Linked DNA regions of Homo sapiens. The protein of the gene in region 2 purifies or fractionates together with the protein of the main gene of each other region. This does not show direct contact. Each region holds a gene or a part of one and is shown on either strand. Other genes may lie near its edges. The genes, in order: CRY1, MLXIPL, NR1H4, FABP1 and FBP2.

The links.
Region 1: the proteins of MLXIPL (region 2) and CRY1 purify together in Homo sapiens (affinity purification with western blotting, with the first as the bait; one study listed by BioGRID). This does not show direct contact.
Region 3: the proteins of MLXIPL (region 2) and NR1H4 purify together in Homo sapiens (affinity purification with mass spectrometry, with the first as the bait; one study listed by BioGRID). This does not show direct contact.
Region 4: the proteins of MLXIPL (region 2) and FABP1 purify together in Homo sapiens (affinity purification with mass spectrometry, with the first as the bait; one study listed by BioGRID). This does not show direct contact.
Region 5: the proteins of MLXIPL (region 2) and FBP2 purify together in Homo sapiens (affinity purification with mass spectrometry, with the first as the bait; one study listed by BioGRID). This does not show direct contact.

The regions. Positions count from the first base shown.
Region 1 is NC_000012.12:106,992,154-106,996,188, reverse strand, and holds part of CRY1 (cryptochrome-1), read left to right. Parts: intron 1-3,152; coding exon 3,153-3,224; intron 3,225-3,298; coding exon 3,299-3,402; exon of another isoform or gene 3,403-4,035.
Region 2 is NC_000007.14:73,596,840-73,600,874, forward strand, and holds part of MLXIPL (carbohydrate-responsive element-binding protein), read right to left. Parts: intron 2,857-4,035; coding exon 2,687-2,856; intron 875-2,686; coding exon 343-874; intron 94-342; coding exon 26-93; intron 1-25. UniProt on the Homo sapiens protein: Binds DNA as a heterodimer with MLX/TCFL4 and activates transcription. Binds to the canonical E box sequence 5'-CACGTG-3'. Plays a role in transcriptional activation of glycolytic target genes. Involved in glucose-responsive gene regulation.
Region 3 is NC_000012.12:100,532,619-100,536,653, forward strand, and holds part of NR1H4 (bile acid receptor), read left to right. Parts: intron 1-2,271; coding exon 2,272-2,405; intron 2,406-3,888; coding exon of another isoform or gene 3,889-3,893; coding exon 3,894-3,992; intron 3,993-4,035. UniProt on the Homo sapiens protein: Ligand-activated transcription factor. Receptor for bile acids (BAs) such as chenodeoxycholic acid (CDCA), lithocholic acid, deoxycholic acid (DCA) and allocholic acid (ACA).
Region 4 is NC_000002.12:88,122,482-88,125,062, forward strand, and holds the end of FABP1 (fatty acid-binding protein, liver), read right to left. Parts: intron 2,106-2,581; coding exon 2,013-2,105; intron 624-2,012; coding exon 573-623; 3' UTR 501-572; downstream 1-500.
Region 5 is NC_000009.12:94,583,428-94,587,462, forward strand, and holds part of FBP2 (fructose-1,6-bisphosphatase isozyme 2), read right to left. Parts: coding exon 3,880-4,035; intron 1,243-3,879; coding exon 1,150-1,242; intron 1-1,149.

The DNA.
Region 1 (4,035 bases), on a different chromosome or scaffold from region 2:
TGATGAGAACACATGGATACATGCGGAGAACAACACATACTGGGGCCAGGTGCAGTAGCTCACACTTGTAATCCCAGCACTTTGGGAGGCCGAGGTGGGTGGATCACCTGAGGTTGGGAGTTTGAGACCAGCCCCTGACCAACATGGAGAAACCCCCGTCTCTACTAAAAAGACAAAATTGGCCGGGCGTGGTAGCGCATGCCTGTAATCCCAGCTACTTGGGAGGCTGAGGCAGGAGAATCACTTGAACCCAGGAGGCAGAGGTTGTGGTGAGCTGAGATCGCGCCATTGCACTCCAGCCTGGATAACAAGAGCAAAACTCCATCTCAAAAACAAAAAACAACAAAACACACATGCTGGGGTCTGTTGGGGGGGCAGGGGCAGGGAGAGCATTAGGAAGAATAGCTAATGCATGCTGGTCTTAATACCTAGGTGATGGGTTGATCTGTGCAGCAAACCCCCATGGCACATGTTTGCCTATGTAACAAACCTGCACATCCTGCACATGTACCCCAGAACTTAAAATAAAAATTGAAGGGAAAAAAAAGAAAAAAGAAATCTATACATGTGATAAAAGAGCATAAAATCATACAAACACTTTGTATCAATGTCAATACCTGGTTATATTGTTGTACTGTAGTTTCATAAGATGTCACTAAGAAGATAGGGAAACAGGACCTCTTTGTACTAACTTTACAACTGTTTGTGAATCTATATTTTTCAAAATAAAAAAAACAGGATAAAAACAGGGTAGCATTTGAGGAATGCTTTTTTAAGTCAGATGTTCTAAGTTGATATTAAGAATAAAACCTTTTAAAAACTGAACCTTTTTGAATTCAGAAATGTCCTGCATCCTCATGAAAACAGCATGTATTTTATCCTCCAAGAATTAGTTTTGGGAGAAGGGGACAAAAGCACTCACATTTTGACTGCCTACCTTTGCCCAGTAGATAGTAAGGGATTTTTGCATACTTTCTCACAGTAACCTGGGGAGGAGGTAGTGGGATCCTCATTTTATATTTGGGGAAATAATCCTAGAAAGATTAGGTAACTTAACCAAGATCCCACAGTTAGTAAGTAGTTGAGCTAAGATTCAGATCCAAGTCTGACTAGCTCCAAAGCTTGTACTTCTTCCTGCATCATTGGGCCTCCTCTGCAAATGGAATGCCATAAGTGTTTACAAGAGAAAATATTTTATTCCTGGAATGTGATCCACCCAGCAGTCGACAGTTGCCAGTGATGGCAGTATACTTGAGAAATGTTCCTTCTCAGTATCTCCTACAATTTGAATAAACTTCCACAAGATAATCATTTCAAAAGTTCTTTCAGATCTCTTGTTCAGTTCACAGCCTGCCTTGTCAGCCCACACATGAGTGAGGGACAGAAGCTCTGTGAAGCACTAAGATAACAGGCAGGTAGCAATGGGCTAGGAACCAAGGGTTGGGCTAATACACAATGATGGCACAGACTGCTTCTTAGACCACTCAAACCTGTGTCGTTTATTTGGAATTATCTTCAAAAGCTAATCATAGTAGCAGGTTAAATTGGGACAATTTTGCTTCACAAATGTATATAGGGTAGTTTATTATATAATAGAAGAATTAATAAATCTTGAAATTATTTTAATCATGTAAATATTTGCCTGTAACATAGTTTGTAGCCAGCTTCTTGGAGGCTTTCAAAAGACATGAGACATGAAAAGCTAAGTAGAACTTAAGTATAAATGGGGGTGTGGAGGGAAAACAAAAACAAATGAAAAAGTGATAAATTATAAGATGCTGCCTCCATGTGCAATATGAGAAAAGGGAGAGATTATTGAGAGCTGAAGGGACTAGAGAAACTTTCTTGAAAGGTGGCAGGATTGAGTAGCATTTGGGTAGTCAGATGAAGGAAAAAAACATTTTAGACCTGGAAATGGGAAATTGTGAAAAGACACGGCTTGGGCTATGCTATTAATATTAAACATTTCTCCTCTCAGGTTTCTGCCCCATTTGAAAGGACTTAAATGCTTCTAAAGCATATCCTTTTATGCCTTACACTTATCCTGTCTGTAGGCTTTTATAGTACCTTACAAGGCATGTCAAAGGGCAAAATTCTTTTACTTGTCTTAGTTTTTTGTTTGTTTGTTTTTGTTTGTTTTTTTAATGACTGTGGAACATTCTTAATCTCTGCAACACAAATTGCATTTTTCTCTGCTCATCTTTGTATTTGTGTGTGTGTGCACATGTGCTCAGGAAAGGAATAAACTATACATAGAAGTCTTACTTTTGTTCTTATAATAAAACAGACTGTAATATGTTTACTACTGTAGCAATATGTTTTAGTTTTTATTTAACTTTTAGGTTTTTTTATTGTAAAATATCAGTTCATCGGCATTATTAGTCATTAGGGAAATGCAAATTAAAACAACTATGGGATAGTACTTCATACTCACTTAGGGTGAGCAACTGCCACTGATTGCCTGGGATTGAAGTTAATTAAAACGAAAGTAAGTGCACAGTCTTGTTCAGGCCATAAGGTGTTGACCTATCCACCTGCTCGTGGATAGGTCCAGAATGCTCATATTTTTCCATAAACTGGACACACTGACAGAAATGTTTCCCTAAAACATACTTCTCTGTTCTAGCCAACCTATTCTCCTATAATAGTGTTTGTTTTTAGAAGGGTTGATAGGATTGCTTAGGCTAGGTAACTGCCACATAGTCTGTGTCTTCTGCTTGTCGTATGATTTGAATTGTTTAACTCATCGGGCAGGCCCTTATTCCCTTATCCTCAAGGAAATATGTTTGGAGGAGCTCTGAAGGAAAAGCGTGGGAAAAGGGACAAGAGTGAGGGAGGAATGTCTATCTCACTCTTGCCCCTATGTTTTACCTTCATGGTCAAGTTTCAAATTGTCATCTAGTAAGGAAATGTTTTTTAGAAAATGATCATCAATGATTTTTCCTTTGAGCTGTCAACACTTCTGTGAGCCTAAATTTAAGTTTTCCTGGTTTGAGCATGTGATTTTTGGTTCATAGGAAGATTGAGATTTAGTCTTAAAAGCATATAAATGACCTTAAGTACAAGCGCTAAAAGTTGGATTTGTAGACTTAATAATACATACATCTTGGATTTGATTTTAAGTAATTTTACTGTGTTTTAAATACTAACAGGTTGCTCTCAAGGGAGTGGTATTTTACACTATGCTCATGGCGACAGTCAGCAAACTCACCTGTTGAAGCAAGGTAAGAATGAAGCATTGGAGCATACTGTTCTTTTTCCTTTTCCTATCTTAAACATACATTTTTTAAATGTGCAGGAAGAAGCTCCATGGGCACTGGTCTCAGTGGTGGGAAACGTCCTAGTCAGGAAGAGGACACACAGAGTATTGGTCCTAAAGTCCAGAGACAGAGCACTAATTAGGTAAATATTTTAGAGCTGTATTTCTTGCTTTAGAAGAGTATATAATTAACATAAATTAAGATAATTTCAAAAATGGAGCAAATCTCTATTTTCAAACCAGAAAATCTTGAGGCATTAATTTTTAAGCAATTTTTACAAACTCAGTTAATTTTTGGTCAAGAGACATGCATCTGTACTGGAGAAATTGTTGCACCAGTTTTATATTCATCTGAACCAATGCTCTTTAAATTAGAGATGTTTATGATTTTGTGGTCAAGTTTTTTCTTAGAAAAAGACAACTTTTTTATTTCCTTACTATGTAACTATGAGTCTAAAACAATTAAAGTGGCCTGTTTATTTTAGTGACATTAATATAATCTTTTTATGAACTTTCCCCTAAATCTTTGCCTCTTAAATGTTGATAAATTTCTTTTATCTGTTATGATGCTTCTAAAATCTAAATTATTTCCAATTTGGGAATAGTTCAAAATTTTTTAAAATGCTGGCCCTTATTAGAAGTATCAGAAAGCCTTGCCTGCATTCAATTTAATTGGATTTGGGATGTCATTTTGTGATTTAAATTAATATGAAAAATATTTATACGTTGGATTTGCCAGTTTTTAAAAATTTTCTGTTTCTTCAGTTTCTAACACT
Region 2 (4,035 bases):
CACCGCCCAGTGCCCGAGATCTTACCGGGGACCCTGGGGACCGGAGGAGGGTGCTGGATACAAGTGGTGGCTCCAGGGCTTGCTCCGGCTTAGCTGTGCACGGGCAGAACCGTGAGGCTACTGGGGCTGGCCCACCCCCGGCATCTATCAAGACCCCATCCTGCCCCTCCCAAGAGTCCACACCCCTTTTAGGTACAGGCCCCACATCCCTCATTCCTTGCCACTCTGTCCCTTGAACTGGACCTGCCCCTTCACCTTCATCTTCTGCTCCCAAAACCCCCTGTCCTCCCCACCCCCTGGCCTCCCTCCCCAGGCTTTCCTCTCCCCGTTGCTGGCCCTCACCTGCTGTGAGCAGCTGTGTGAGGCAGGGGTTGTTGCTCCCCGCAGTGGTGGGGGGACTGGCAGTGGCAGGGGCTAAGGTAGGGGGGCTGGCTTTCTGTCCCCTAGGGGATGGGGCGGGGGGCTTGCCTCTGGGCATGGAGAAGCAAGGCCCAAAGGCAGGCTCCGAATACCCCAAGGGTAGAAGCTCTATGGGGAAGGGGGTGGGGGCTGGGCTGGGGACAGACTGTGGGGTGGGTGGGAAGGCTGCAGGAGCAGGCAGCGGAGACACTCCTGGGGCAGGAGGGACGGTGGGGAAGGGAAACCTGGGAGAGAAGAGAGGCTCTTCCTGCAGCAAAGCAGTGGGTGGTGCCATGGGAGGGAAGGGAGGTGGGGGGCAGGGCTCCAGGCCTGGCACCTTGGCAGGGGGAGGGTAATGCAGCAGAGGTGGGGGTACAGGAGGGGGTGGGAGCCGGGGCTTGGGGTCTTCAGGAAGGAGGAAATCAGAACTCAGGAAGGCGCTGGAGTCCAAGGGGCCAGGGCAGCTGTTCCGAGCCTGGTTGGGGGGACAGACAGACACTCAGAGAGCAGGGGAGAGAGCTGCCCCTGGCAGCCATCTGGGCCTCCCCTGCCCTGCCTTGCCCTGGCCAAACTCTAGACTGGGGCCCTGGGGAGAGATAGGAGAAATGAGCCCTGCCTTCCAACACACACAGGTGTGCGAACATATACATGCAGCAGGGAAATTACAATGAGAGGAGGGAGTCGAGTACATTTATGCAAAAAGCAGGAACAGCGGAGCATCAATCTTCCTGCCCGTCCATTTGTCTCCCAAATAACTTATTCATCCATCCATCCACTAACTTGTCCACCAATCCATCCACCAACCAACTCACCCATCCATTCATCATCCATCCATCCACTAACTTGTCCACTGATCCATCCACCAACCAACCTACCATTCCTTCATCATCCATCCACTAACTTCACCAATCCATCCACTAACCAACCCACCCATCCATTCATCAATTGTCCATCTACTACTTCATCCACCAATCTCTCCATCCATCCGTCTTCCATCCATTCACCTACCTATTTATCAATCTATGAACCAGCTCATCTACCACTCTCTCCACCAGCCTACCAGATATTAACATATTAACTAATCCATCCAACCATCTATACTTCCATCATTCATCCACCAACCCATCCATAATCCTTCCATCCATCCACCATCTATACATTTCCAGCCACTTAACCACCAATGAACCCATTCACTAATCCATTAAACTATTCATCTATGTATCCATCCACCAGCCCACCCATCCACCCAACCACTCACCTACCCATATATCCACCAACCCACGTGTGCCTCCACCGCAGTCTAAGATGCATCTATCCATTCACCAGCACGCCCATTCATCTGCACACTTGCTCATTCATTCAGTCACTGACTCACTCATTGGACAACCATTCACTGAGTGCTGTTATGTGCCTGAGCTGTATTAGGTATAGAGAATGCAGTGGTGAGCAAAACATAACCCTTTCAGTAAGGAGCTCACTGTCTGATGGAGGAGAGACACCCCTCAGCAACCGATTAGAATTAGCACCTGAAAAGTCTGATGATGGAGGGAAAAGGCCTATAACCAAGCAGCAGGAAGCAACTTCTGAACTGCACCTGGGGGCCAGGTGTGGTGGCTCACACCTGTAATCCCACCACCTTGGGAGGCCGAGGCGGGCGGACTACTGAGGTCAGGAGTTTGAGACCAGCCTGGGCAACATGGTGAAACCCTGTCTCTACTAAAAATACAAAAATAAGCCGGAAATCGCTTGAACACGGGAGGCGGAGGTTACAGTGAGCCGAGATCATGCCACTGCACTCGAGCCTAGGCGACAGAGTGAGACTCTGTCTCAAAGAAAAAAAAAAAAAAGAATTGCATATGGGGAATTGATGAACCAAAATGGTAGATTCACTGTTTCCTAAACATCCACGCTCAGCTTTCTGCCTCGAAGCTTTTGTTCCTGCTGTTCTCCCATCTGGCTTGAGGTCAGCCAGTCCCTTCTGTCCAAAGCTGACCTATTCTCTAAGGCCCAGAAACTCCCCTTCTCCAGGAAGCCTTCCACAAGCAACTGGCCCTTGGTGGAGCCCATTCCATGGTCTCCATGCCCTTAGCTTTCTCCCACAACCGTTTTGTCCAGTTCTGCTTCACGGGGTCCCTCCCAGAGGGCAGAGATGGGGTCTTTCTTTCCCTCCAATCTCCAAGCAGAAGACTGGGCACTCAGGGAGTGTCTGATACCTCCTGGACATGAACAGGGCAGGAACAGCTCTCAAGTGAGCTACACAGGGCTGGACGGGGTGGGGTGAGCTCACCTGCAGACGGCTGTGTCCAGAGAGGTGGGTCATGGCCGAGGAAGCCGGGGGCACCTCTGGGCCCAGGGTCCCACTGCTGAAGAGGGAGTCAACCACGGGGCTGAAGCTGGGGGGCTCTGGGAAGTTTGAAGGCATGGGCGGCTGTGGGAGGCGGGAGTTGGTAAAGAAATCTGTAATTCAGACACACAGGGCAACAGCAGTTAGGGCCAGGGCTATGGCTGGGAAACAGCTGAGAGGAGAGTGGCCTGTCCCCAGCCTTGGCGGGTGGGGACATGGGGACTGGCGGGCAGAGGGTGGGGGTCCCTTCCACAGAAGATTGTGAAACTGGGAGGGTTTCTGTCTCGATTAGGGGAAGCAGCAACCGTCTTGGGTGGAATGAGCTTGCGTGGGAGAGAGCAGGGGACTGTGGATGTGAACAGGGACCCCAGGAAGGAGCCCCCTCCCCTCCCCAGCCCCAGGCTTAGCTCAGGAAGTCCCCCTCCCCACCCCCTGGTGGCTCCCCTTCCCTGATCTGCTGGAGGTGCAGAAAGGGGGTGCCCAGAGCGAGTGCCAGGGTGGAAAAGGGGTACGGTGCTAGGGGAGGAGGCCTGGCATGGGAGGGGCCCCAGGGTGGCAGAAGTTCAAGAGGGTGAGTTGGAGATGAGGGGGAACGTGAGGTCACTGGGTCCGGGACAAGCTTGGTTTGTTGGAAGGTCAACAGGTGGAGCCTAGGAGTGGGGTGAAGAGTGTAATGGGGCGAGAGGGGCCTAAGGCTGGGCTCCGAGTGGGGTGGGGGCGAGAGGGGCCTAAGGGTGGGCTCTGAGTGGTGTGTGGGCAAGAGGGAGATATGGGTGGGCTCTGAGTGGGATGGGGGTGAGGGGGGTGCCTAAGGCTGGGCTCCAAGTGGGGTGTGGGCAAGAGGGGCTAAGGGTGGGCTCTGAGTGGGGTGGGGGCGAGAGGGGCCTAAGGGTGGGTTCTGAGTGGGGTGTGGGCAAGAGGGGGATACGGGTGGGCTCCAAGTGGGGGGGGGGTGAAGGGGGACCTAAGACTGGGCTCCAAGTGGGGTGGGGGCAAGAGGGGCTAAGGGTGGGCTCCAAGTAGGGTGGGGATGAGAGGGGGCCTAAGGGTGGGCTCCGAGTGGGGTGGGGGCGAGAGGGGCCTAAGGCTGGGCTCCGAAAGGGGTGGGGGCGAGAGGGGCCCTAAGGGTGGGCTCTGAGTGGGGTGGGGGCGAGAGGGGCCTAAGGGTGGGCTCTGAGTGGGGTGGGGCAAGGGGTCTGGGAAGCCTGCGAGAGCTGGGGGAGGCAGTAGCGGATTGTTTGGGGTGCGGGTTGTGTAAGTCCTGGGCTATTCTGGTTTTGGGAAGCAGCTGG
Region 3 (4,035 bases), on a different chromosome or scaffold from region 2:
TTCAAGCAATTACATTTCACTAAAAATCTCTTAAGGAGGCAGATGTCAGGTAACTCATCACGAGAGTGCTACTTCACATATTAAAGAAGGAACCTACTAAGCCATCTAAGTTCTTGAAAAGGGTAATGAACCACTGAAATTGTCCAAACTGTCAACTAAAGAGCATTTTAGTCACCCGAAAGAAATGGGTTTTTTTTGTTGTTTTTCTTTGTCGCAGTGAACTATACATGGAGCCCAGTGGCATTAACATACCATTCAAATAATGTGCTTTAATGAGCTACGAATGACATCTAAAAGTTTCCTCTAAATTTGATTTTAATATACTTATTATTTATTGCTTAATTAGCATACAAATTCACTATTGTGGAAAAAAATGAGAATGCTTTATAAGGTATAACTGCCTCTGAATTGTCTAAATAGAGTTCTAAACCAAGTCATTTTATTAAGGATCTGTCTTCTCTTAGTGCAGCTTTGAACCAATTTGTATAGGTTTACACAGGAAATTAACTACTCCCAGTTTTAATATAATTTTGTCTTTCTATCTGATAAAGAGACACTGTATTAACTGCTGGCTTTGTGAGGAACTGTAATCTTCATCAAAAATTGGAATGCATGCTAGTATATAACATAATTAATTTTTCATTCTGCAAATTCTACAGACCACTCAGATTCTGAGATATGTCCTGTTTCTCCTCAAAACACAAATAGACAAATGTCACCAAGGGGATGACAGCATTCAGGCAGGGAATGCCAAATGAAATAAAAGCCTTCAGAAGGTGACTCCAGTTCTATTGTTACCAAACTGTACGGGCAACTGGGATGGACCCAGGGAAATAATGCATGCAGGTTGGGGGAAAATAGGTCTGTGTAAATAATCCAGCTCTGGGTGGATGAAAATTTTATAGTAGCTGATCACAATCTCATCTTAGCATACATGAAATGAGAACCTGCAATAGGGGCTGCTGCTGGAATCCAATCTTGCAATGGAAACACTTACTCTGACACTGCACAGCTCATATAGCTCATCACTTAAATATGAACTTGTTCCAGCTGGAGCGCTGAGGACATTTTGCATGAAGCCACATATAGCAGTCTATAATATTTATGAACACAAACTCATCCAGTAACAGATGCGGATATTTCATGGTTCTATAAAATAAATTCCCTGTACAAAGAAATTCCTGGAACTTTGTTTTATTGGCATTGAGAAAAGAGTAAGGACGTTAAATGGGATGAAGGGAAGATTGTTTTACATTATTTTTAATAGCTCTCTTTTTTTTTTTTTTGTTGAGACGGAGTCTCGCTCTGTCGCCCAGGCCGGACTGCGGACTGCAGTGGCGCAATCTCGGCTCACTGCAAGCTCCGCTTCCCGGGTTCACGCCATTCTCCTGCCTCAGCCTCCCGAGTAGCTGGGACTACAGGCGCCCGCCACTGCGCCCGGCTAATTTTTTGTATTTTTAGTAGAGACGGGGTTTCACCTTGTTAGCCAGGATGGTCTCGATCTCCTGACCTCATCCACCCGCCTCGGCCTCCCAAAGTGCTGGGATTACAGGCGTGAGCCACCGCGCCCGGCCTTAATAGCTCTCTTTAAGTGTAAATCAATGAGGTTGATTGTATGATCATTCAAAGACATTTTAAAAGTCACCTTGTATTATTTTTATTTTTAACTGTATTCTCAGGAATTGGCACTGTTCTTAAAATTAACAGGATTTTAAAAATTTCCCTAAAGGATGTTAACATTTGTTTTTCTCAATAAGTTTATATGTATTTAATGTGAAATTCAATATCCTTCTTCTGGTACAGTATGTAAACATGGATGAAAATAATATTAATGGCATGTTTTAAAACACCAATTTTCACAGTCCCCTAGAGCAGGAACAGGGAGAGTGTCATTCACCTTTTCATTGACTGAATCCCTTGCATTTGTACAATGCTTTCATATCACAAGTTCTTTATATAAAGCTCATTTAAAAATGATTATTGCTTTTATTTTGTGTAGATTATTGCTTTTAATCTACACAAAACTCTATGAGGTAGATATTATTCCCATTTTACAAATGAGGAAACTGAGACTCACAGAGGTTAAACTACTTGTTCAAGGTTAAGTCTCAAACCTTGGCCTTCCCTTTCTAAAATGCATAAAAGGCTAGCGTTAGTTCTGTGCCATTGCATAGGGGATCTTCTGGGCCAGGTACATATCAGTGGTTTTATGACCACACACCCAACAGTACTTTCTGTGATTGGTGAAGTCTCTATGCTTATTTGTTTTAGGCTTGTTAACTGAAATTCAGTGTAAATCTAAGCGACTGAGAAAAAATGTGAAGCAGCATGCAGATCAGACCGTGAATGAAGACAGTGAAGGTCGTGACTTGCGACAAGTGACCTCGACAACAAAGTCATGCAGGGTAATAATATGCAATGGTGTCTGCCAAGACTGGCAGGAACTGAGTTTCTAGGTACATAGTGAGCTGGCCAGGAGGCTTTCAAATTAAAGCCACAGGCACAGCTGAATTTCTAGTCCAATTGTTCATTAAAATGGATTCCTAATACATGCTTTGATGTAAACATTCAAATAGTAGCAATGCATAAACTAAAAAGTGAAAGTTTTCCTTCTCTCTGACTCCATTCCAGTCCTACTACCTAGTGTTTGCCAGCAGAAATGATTTGGTGTATAAAATGGATTTTTTCCAACTGAGTATTGATGACCATTTTTTCCCTCTTTTTGAGAAGACAGTCTCAAACTGGGAAGAACATGGTCTCAATAGAGGCTGTGGATTAATCCTTATAAATGAGTAAAACAGGGTGAATACACGTATGTGGATGAATAGAGAAAAGTCCTACCCACTGGGGTTACAAATTTCTCAAGAAATCCATTGAGCAACTTAGGACAAAATAGGGGAACAGCATCCAAGGTGTTTAGACACACACATTGTGATAATGCACAGGACATTTGATGGAATTTTATTTTGCCATTAGCTGAAAAACCAGTAAGCTATGATTGTCCAAACCACACCCTTCTCAATATTTATTACATTATTGACAAAGAAAACTTTATCCACATTTAGTTTTACAAATACGTATTTTTGTATTTATTTAAGAAAAAGTATTTTATATGAAAGCATTATTTTGCCATAGTGCTTCATCAGTAACACTTTGGTATAAGAAAACAAAGAGTTGACATAATTATTCACACTCTTCAAAAGATGCTGTAGAGGGAGAAAGAGATGTTTGGGGTCTGAATTGTCCAGATTGTTGACTCTCTATTTTAGGGGTTGACAAACTTTTTTTCTTTAAAGGGCTTTGGCCACATGGTATCTACAACAGCTACTCAACTCTGCCATTTTAGTGCAAAAGTAGCAGAGACAATACATAAACAAATGAGTGTGACTGTGTTCCAATAAAACTTTATAAAATCCAATGGATTTGGTCCATGGGCCACAGTTTGTTGATCCCTCCTCCACATGAATACTCTCAGATGACTTCACCAGGTGGAATTCATGTAGAATAGTATATGAATATAGTATTCATAGTAGTCATACTATATGAAAACCTTTCATTAGTTATAATTAAAGCTTGAACTTTCAGTGACCTTCAATATGAATGGGCTCAATAGTCTTCATATCCAGACTACCATTTATTCCTAAGAAATACACAAGTGGAATATTTTGTTATTCATATTTTATAGATAGGAAAATTCAGTGAAATGTGATATGGCCTGCCTGAGGACCCAGAGAAAGAAATTATACACTCTCTTAGAACTCATAGTTCCTGCTGTATTTATGCCTTTTTTTTTTTATGATTTCTGCTATTAGGTCCCTCCAGATGAATGCACATATAGAAAGAAGGCTTTATACACATCTTCCCTAACACCTTTTATTTTCTTGCCAGTGTAGGAGAAAACTGAACTCACCCCAGATCAACAGACTCTTCTACATTTTATTATGGATTCATATAACAAACAGAGGATGCCTCAGGAAATAACAAATAAAATTGTATGTATAATATCTGAAAATATGTGGGTTTAAAGTTAATATT
Region 4 (2,581 bases), on a different chromosome or scaffold from region 2:
CCTGCCCATAGCATGGAGGGAACTTCCACTGAGCCTCCTCTGTCCACTTCTGGCGCCTCTCACTAAGCCCTTTGCTCAGCCTCCCACAGGAGGAAAAGTTTATTGGGCGGGTCAGTGTCGACCTTTCTGCACCTGTCTGCTGGTGGGCTGGTACTGTGGCTGTGCTTGTGGGTATAGCTCTCCTTTTCTGCCCAGTCTTCCTGCTCCCTGTCCCCACAGAGAGCACCCTCAAGGCCAGCCCACTGCACATCCTCTGGCTCCAGCTCCTTGCCCGTGTGCCTGACTGGGAAAGGGCATTCCAGGGCCTTCCTGCAGATCTAGCCACACCTGGCTTTCCTGGCAGAACACCTGGGTGTGCAGCATGGGTTTTGTGTTCAGGGAATTACTCTTCGGATTTGACCTGGTAGTGTGGATCATGTGGATTATCAACATTTACGAAAGTATATTTACGAGAATATGGTGAGCAATAGCACCATCAATGAAAAGGCATTGAGAAGACATTTTTTTTTAAAACAAAGTTCACTTTATTACATTAATTTTACACACTAAAATAATATGAAATGCAGACTTGTTTAAATTCTCTTGCTGATTCTCTTGAAGACAATGTCACCCAATGTCATGGTCTGAAAGCCAGAAAAGAAATTATGAAGTGTTCATCTGATGTTGTATTGTAAAAAACAAAATTAAGCATAAAAAACAAAATTAAGCTTAAAAAACAGCACCAAATATGTTGGCATATGAAACAATTCAAAAATTCGTCTGGTTTCCTGTAGGACCGGAGGAAAGGTTGGCAATGTTTTCCAAAATCCTATGCCAAGTCTTTGTCACTTCTCCTCCTCACCTGGAAAGTCCTCCTGCCTTTGACTGAATTCTTTTCTACATCAATGACTGTTATAGCAAGACCATCCAAACCAGCCCAATCTAATTTCTCAAAATTTCATTGAGTACCTACTATGCACCAAATACATGTTGAGCACCAAGGATACATGTACATGGACACAACTAGGCACACAGCCTGGAAGGCAGTGGGTAGTGCATAATTGTCCTCCTATAGCTGTGAAGCATATAAAAACAGTGGATGCATCAGCTTTTGAGTTTTTAAGGATGTTTCCTCCACCCCTGCCAGTTCTCTTGAATAAGACTGCTGGAATGACATACCATGTCATCAGGGTGAAAAGGAGCCCCTCAGTTTCAGCAGCAATGCAATAGTTGCTGCTTGATGGGTTTGAGCCCTGGATTTAACATTTATTAGCTGATGACTTGGACAGGTCAACCTGTCTATTGAATCCCTCATCCAGCCTCCCTCGAAGGAGACAGGAGGATTAGGTGAGATGGAACCTATCAAAGGGCGTTGGCCAGGACTTACTGCAGGATAGCTCATCTCCTGCTCCCCTGCTCTCCTGGGAATGTGCTGGGGCGGAGGTGGAAACTGCACATTGGGTGGTTGATGCTCACACTCTCTCTAGTTTAAGAATTTTTCCATTTGAATAGAGTGATGACAGCGCCCTGAGGCAGTGTTCTGTTGTCTGTGACTCCCTAAAGCATATTCTGGGGGCAAAGAAGAGTCAGGGGGACATACCTGCAGGAGAAACACTGCACCATTCACCCCCAAATAGGGTACAGGATGTGGCTGGCAGCCAGGCACCAAGGCTGACTGCATAACTGGACTGTGCCAGGCTTGTAAGCTGCCATAATATGACCATGAATGGGATTCTCTTTATAAACGCTAAATGGGCAAAGGCATTTATGAAGCACCCTGGGCATGCAGGGCAGGTGGAGGCCTCTGTGGCTGGTTGGTTGCGCTGAGCAGAAAGGATTAGTGATAATGTGTGTAAACTGCCTGGGACATGATGGATCCTCAGTAAGTGCTGGCAGATACTGACCACAGGAAAGAAGTTTGGGGGTTGGAGGGTGGAGGGGTGGCATTAGGGTATGTGAGCCGCTCCCCATGCTTCACCTCCCCTCTCCCCTCAAGCACTGGGAGCCACACGCTCAGAGCACCACCAACTTACATTGGTGATTATGTCGCCGTTGAGTTCGGTCACAGACTTGATGTTTTTGAAAGTTGTCACCAGTTTATTGTCACCTTCCAACTGAACCACTGTCTGCAGGGAACAGAGAGGTGACCTGTGAGGAAGGGGTGGTGGGGGGCAAGAGCCTTGCTAATGAAGTTGCTTCCTTTGCACAGGTCTCAGCTCATAACAACCAAAATGCTCTGGTTCCTATGATCCCAAGCCTCTAGTTCTCTGGCTCCAAATAGAAGTGAGGTGCATTTAAGAACTAAATAAAATGTCACGACTTCTTTTGTCAGAACTTTAATTCATGGCATGTGATCTAGAAATGAGCATGGAACACCTAAGTGGCCCCAAATACAAATGCTAAAATCAAATCAAGTAAAATCTCAATTCTCCCAAGCTAATGGAGGGAGGTAGTGGCAAAATTCAAATATTGACCAGTAGAGAATACATATTTTGCTTTGGTATGTATTCTTCTTTTTTTTTTTTTTTTAATTGAGATGAGGTCTTGCTATGTTGCCCAGGCTGGTCTTGAACTCCTAGGCTCAAACAGTCCTTTCACTTCA
Region 5 (4,035 bases), on a different chromosome or scaffold from region 2:
TACCAGATTATTCTCACAATATAACCCAAACTATACAGGCCTTAAATACTCATATTTCTGCCATAGATTCCCTATCTCAAGACTCTGTAAGAGCACGGTTTAATCAACTTCCTAATACATAGAAGACTCTCAAATACAATGTAACTGGCACTCTGCTTATTTTTCTCTTTGGTTGCTATGGATTGTTTGTTTGAGAGAGTCTTGCTCTGTCACCCAGGCTGGAGTGCAGTGGCATGATCTCAGCTCACTGCAACCTGCACTTCCTGGGTTCAAGCAATTCTCTTGCCTCAGCCTCCTGAGTAGCTGGAATTACAGGCGTGCACCATCACCCTGGCTAATTTTTGTATTTTTAGTAGAGACGGGGTTTCACCATGTTTCCCAGACTGGTCTCGACCACCTAGCCTCAAGGCCTCAAGTGATCCGCCCGCCTCAGCCTCCCAAAGTTCTGGGATTACAGGCGTGAGCCACCGCAGCTGGCGAGGTTGCTATGGATTTTATTGCCGTTGTACACTTTATATAGAATGAAGGACAAGTTTTCTGAATTGTGAAGTTTCTAGTCCTGCTGGATGTCACAAACCCACCCAGCTCTCTGTTGCTAGGATTTCAGGGTAGGCAGAATGGCCCAAAAGATATGCCAGTCCCCAGGATCTGTGAATACCCAGCATTACATGGCAACAAAGACTTTTCAGGTGTACTCAGGGGTTCAGATTTCAAATAGGGAGATCACCGTGGACCTTCCAGGTTAGATTAGTTCAATCTAATCCAATGAGCGTTAGCAGAAAACTTTCTGTGGCTGGGGACAGGAGAGATGAGGCAAGAGGGGGAGAGGATGTCAGAGATTCAGAATGCCACCTGGAACCTAATGCCATGTCTGACATTTGTGTTGCACCCAGACTTTCAAAACAAGATCTCAGCTGTCCTTCTGTGTTACCCTCCCAGGAATGCCAGAAAGTAGGCAGAGAAAGAATCGCCAATCCAGTTCTTCTAATGAGGAGCCCCAGGCAGAGAAAAGTTGGTGGTTTGCCTACAGTGGCTTTTCTCGTTAGTGGGAAGACAAAGGGTAGGACTCCAAACACACGGTTTTCAGCCCAGGAACCTTCCAGAGACCACCACAGGAAGGAGGTGTAAAATGTCAGCCTGTCTACTCACCTTTCTATAGATGGCAAAGATGGTTCCGATGGAGGCCAGGCAGTCAATATTGGAAGATCCATCCAGTGGGTCAAAGCAGACCACGTATTTCCCCTAAATCAGAGAGGAAAGCACCAACTGATCAGCACATCTTCCCATTAGCACAATTGCTCTGTGTCAGGGCTGTGCGTGGCAGAGTACACCACATCAAAAAGAGATTGAGAACCACAGCATATCTTTATCAAAAAACACCATGACTTACGGAGGGCAGGGTGCCAGTTTATACACAAATACTCCTCTGGGTTTTGTATCCATCTCACCTGTCTGATGCGAAGACCAGAAGATAAAGTGGGTGTGTCTTGAGAGACCAACGTCCCCCACACCCACCCACTCTGCTGTCACAGGCAGCTCAAGCCACCAAGGGAAGCCCCAGGTCCTTTTTATAGCCCCCTGTGTGCAAGGTCACGAGAGACCCTTAGTGATGGCGACCGGAACCCCCAGGCCAATTAAACACGGGTAATGCAACTTCAAGAGAAATGAGGGTCATTTCTCCCTCCACTTGATTTAGTTTTCCCTGACTTTCCAATGAGTATTGGCCTAGCTTCATTTGAGCTTTGTTTCTGTTTTTTTTCCTTGCTCAGCCAGAGTAGAAAAGTTAGATAATTTGTAAACTTGGAAATTCCCCAACATCTCTATAATAATCCAATTTTTTAAAAAAAAATCCAATTTAGCCCATTCATTCATGCATGCATGCATTCAGCAGATACATGTTGAGCTTCCAGCATATGCTGGGAAGTAAGTGTTCAAGGCCCTGGGGTTTGTTTCCGGGGGGTCAGCGATCCCGGCAGCAAGGCTGGATTTCATGGCACTGACATTCCAGTGGGAGAACAGACAGAGAGCACACAGGTCAGGACACATACAAGCAGGCTGTGGCACGTGCCCTAACGAAAACCCACATAGGCTGGGGGCTGGAGAGCCATGAGGGGGGGTCACATTTGATGACAGACCTGACTAGAATTAAGGAATGAAGAAACACACAGAGACCTAGAAAGCAAAATTGTTTGTTTTCTTGTTTTTGTTTTGTTTTGACAGAGTCTCACTCTGTTGCCCAGGATGGAGTGCAGTGGTGTGGTCAGAGCTCGCTGCAGCCTAGAGATCCTGGGCTCAAGCAATCCTCCCACCTCAGACTCCCAAGTAGCTGGGACTACAGGTGCACACCACCATGCCGAGCTAAATTTTTATCTTTTGTATCTTTATGTTGCCTAGGCTGGTCTCAAACTCCTGAGCTCAAGCAATTCTCCCACCTCAGACTCCCGAGTAGCTGGGACTACAGGTGCACACCACCATGCCGAGCTAAATTTTTATCTTTTGTATCTTTATGTTGCCTAGGCTGGTCTCAAACTCCTGAGCTCAAGCAATCCTCCCACCTCAGCCTCCCAAAGCACCGGGATTGCAGGCGTGAGCCACCGCGCCCATCCTAGAAAGAAGAATTTTCGACAGAGAGATCAGCAGGTTTGGAGTATTCAAGAGCTGCCACGGGCCAGGCATGGTGGCTCACGCCTGTAATCCCAGCACTTTGGGAGCCTGAGGCGGGTGGATCACCTGAGGTCAGAGTTCAAGACCAGCCTGGCCAACATGGCGAAACCCCGTCTCTACTAAAAACACAAAAATTAGCGGGGCATGGTGGCGCATGCCTGTAATCCCAGCTACTCAGGAGGCTGAGGCGGGAGAATTGCTTGAACCCGGGAGGCAGAGGTTACAGTGAGCTGAGATTGCGCCATTGCACTCCAGCCTGTCCAGCCGGGCAGTAGAGCAAGACTCCGTCTCAAAAAAATAAATAAATAAGTAAATAAATAAATAAAGGAACTGACATGAAGACCTATGTGGCTATGTGGCTTAGGCCAATAGGAGAAGACAATGGTAGATCAGACTGGAGAGAGAAACAAGAGTCATATCAACTGAAACTGAAAGTTGGAAGTAATAGTGTGATGTAGCTAAAATTATGTGAGACGAGGGCAAAAGTGCCTTTTGCAGTACCTGGCATAGAGCAGAGGTTAAATAAATTTGGCTTTACTTTAAATTCTTTTCCATTCCTCCAGCTAATCACAAAGAAATGGCCTCTTGTCTATTGACTATATTGCAGCTGAACATTGATTGAAACTTTTGGCCATTGGCAAACCTCTCTGTATAATAAGCTGTGTGTGAACCCATAGTGAATGCAGACCCTCCCCAGCCGTGCCTTCCTTCACCGACTTCACCATCCTACGAGGTAAGAGCACAGGAGGCTTGTGGTTTTGTTTCTGGACCAGTCTAACAGCTTGTCAGGCACTAAGAAATCTCTGCTGAAACTGTAACCCCTCGCAAAGTGCCGGCTGGGGGCGGGGGTGGAATGAGAAGGCGGGGCGGTGAGAGGCTGTACAGTACAGCTCTTCCCTGGACTCCACAAGGTTAAGCCCCCAAAAATTTGGCTCTTGTTACTGATTAAGTGAACAGCCACGAACAAGCGCCCACTGAGGCGGTTCCTGCATCACTCTGAACAATTTCCTGAATGAATCACTGTCCTACTGTGGAGTCTTCTTTCTCTAGACAGCACAAGATTTCCAAGTAGAGAAGTATGTAATCCTTTGTTTCCAGAAAACAAATGTTAAGAAATAGAGGAGAATCCCGGGAATTAAAGAAAAGTAAGGCAGCTTATTTCCGGCTCAGTATCATCATCTACTGGCGAGCGGGCACCGCAGCCCCATGACGCACCCGCTTCTCCTTGGCGGTGATGATGGCGTCCTTATTCTCTTCTGAGACCAGGACGCAGGTACTATAGGAGGATTGGACCATGTTGATCACCAGGGAATTGGATAGCACATCCAGTTTCTTCACCTCATCTCCCGTCACGTTAACGCTTCCTGCGAT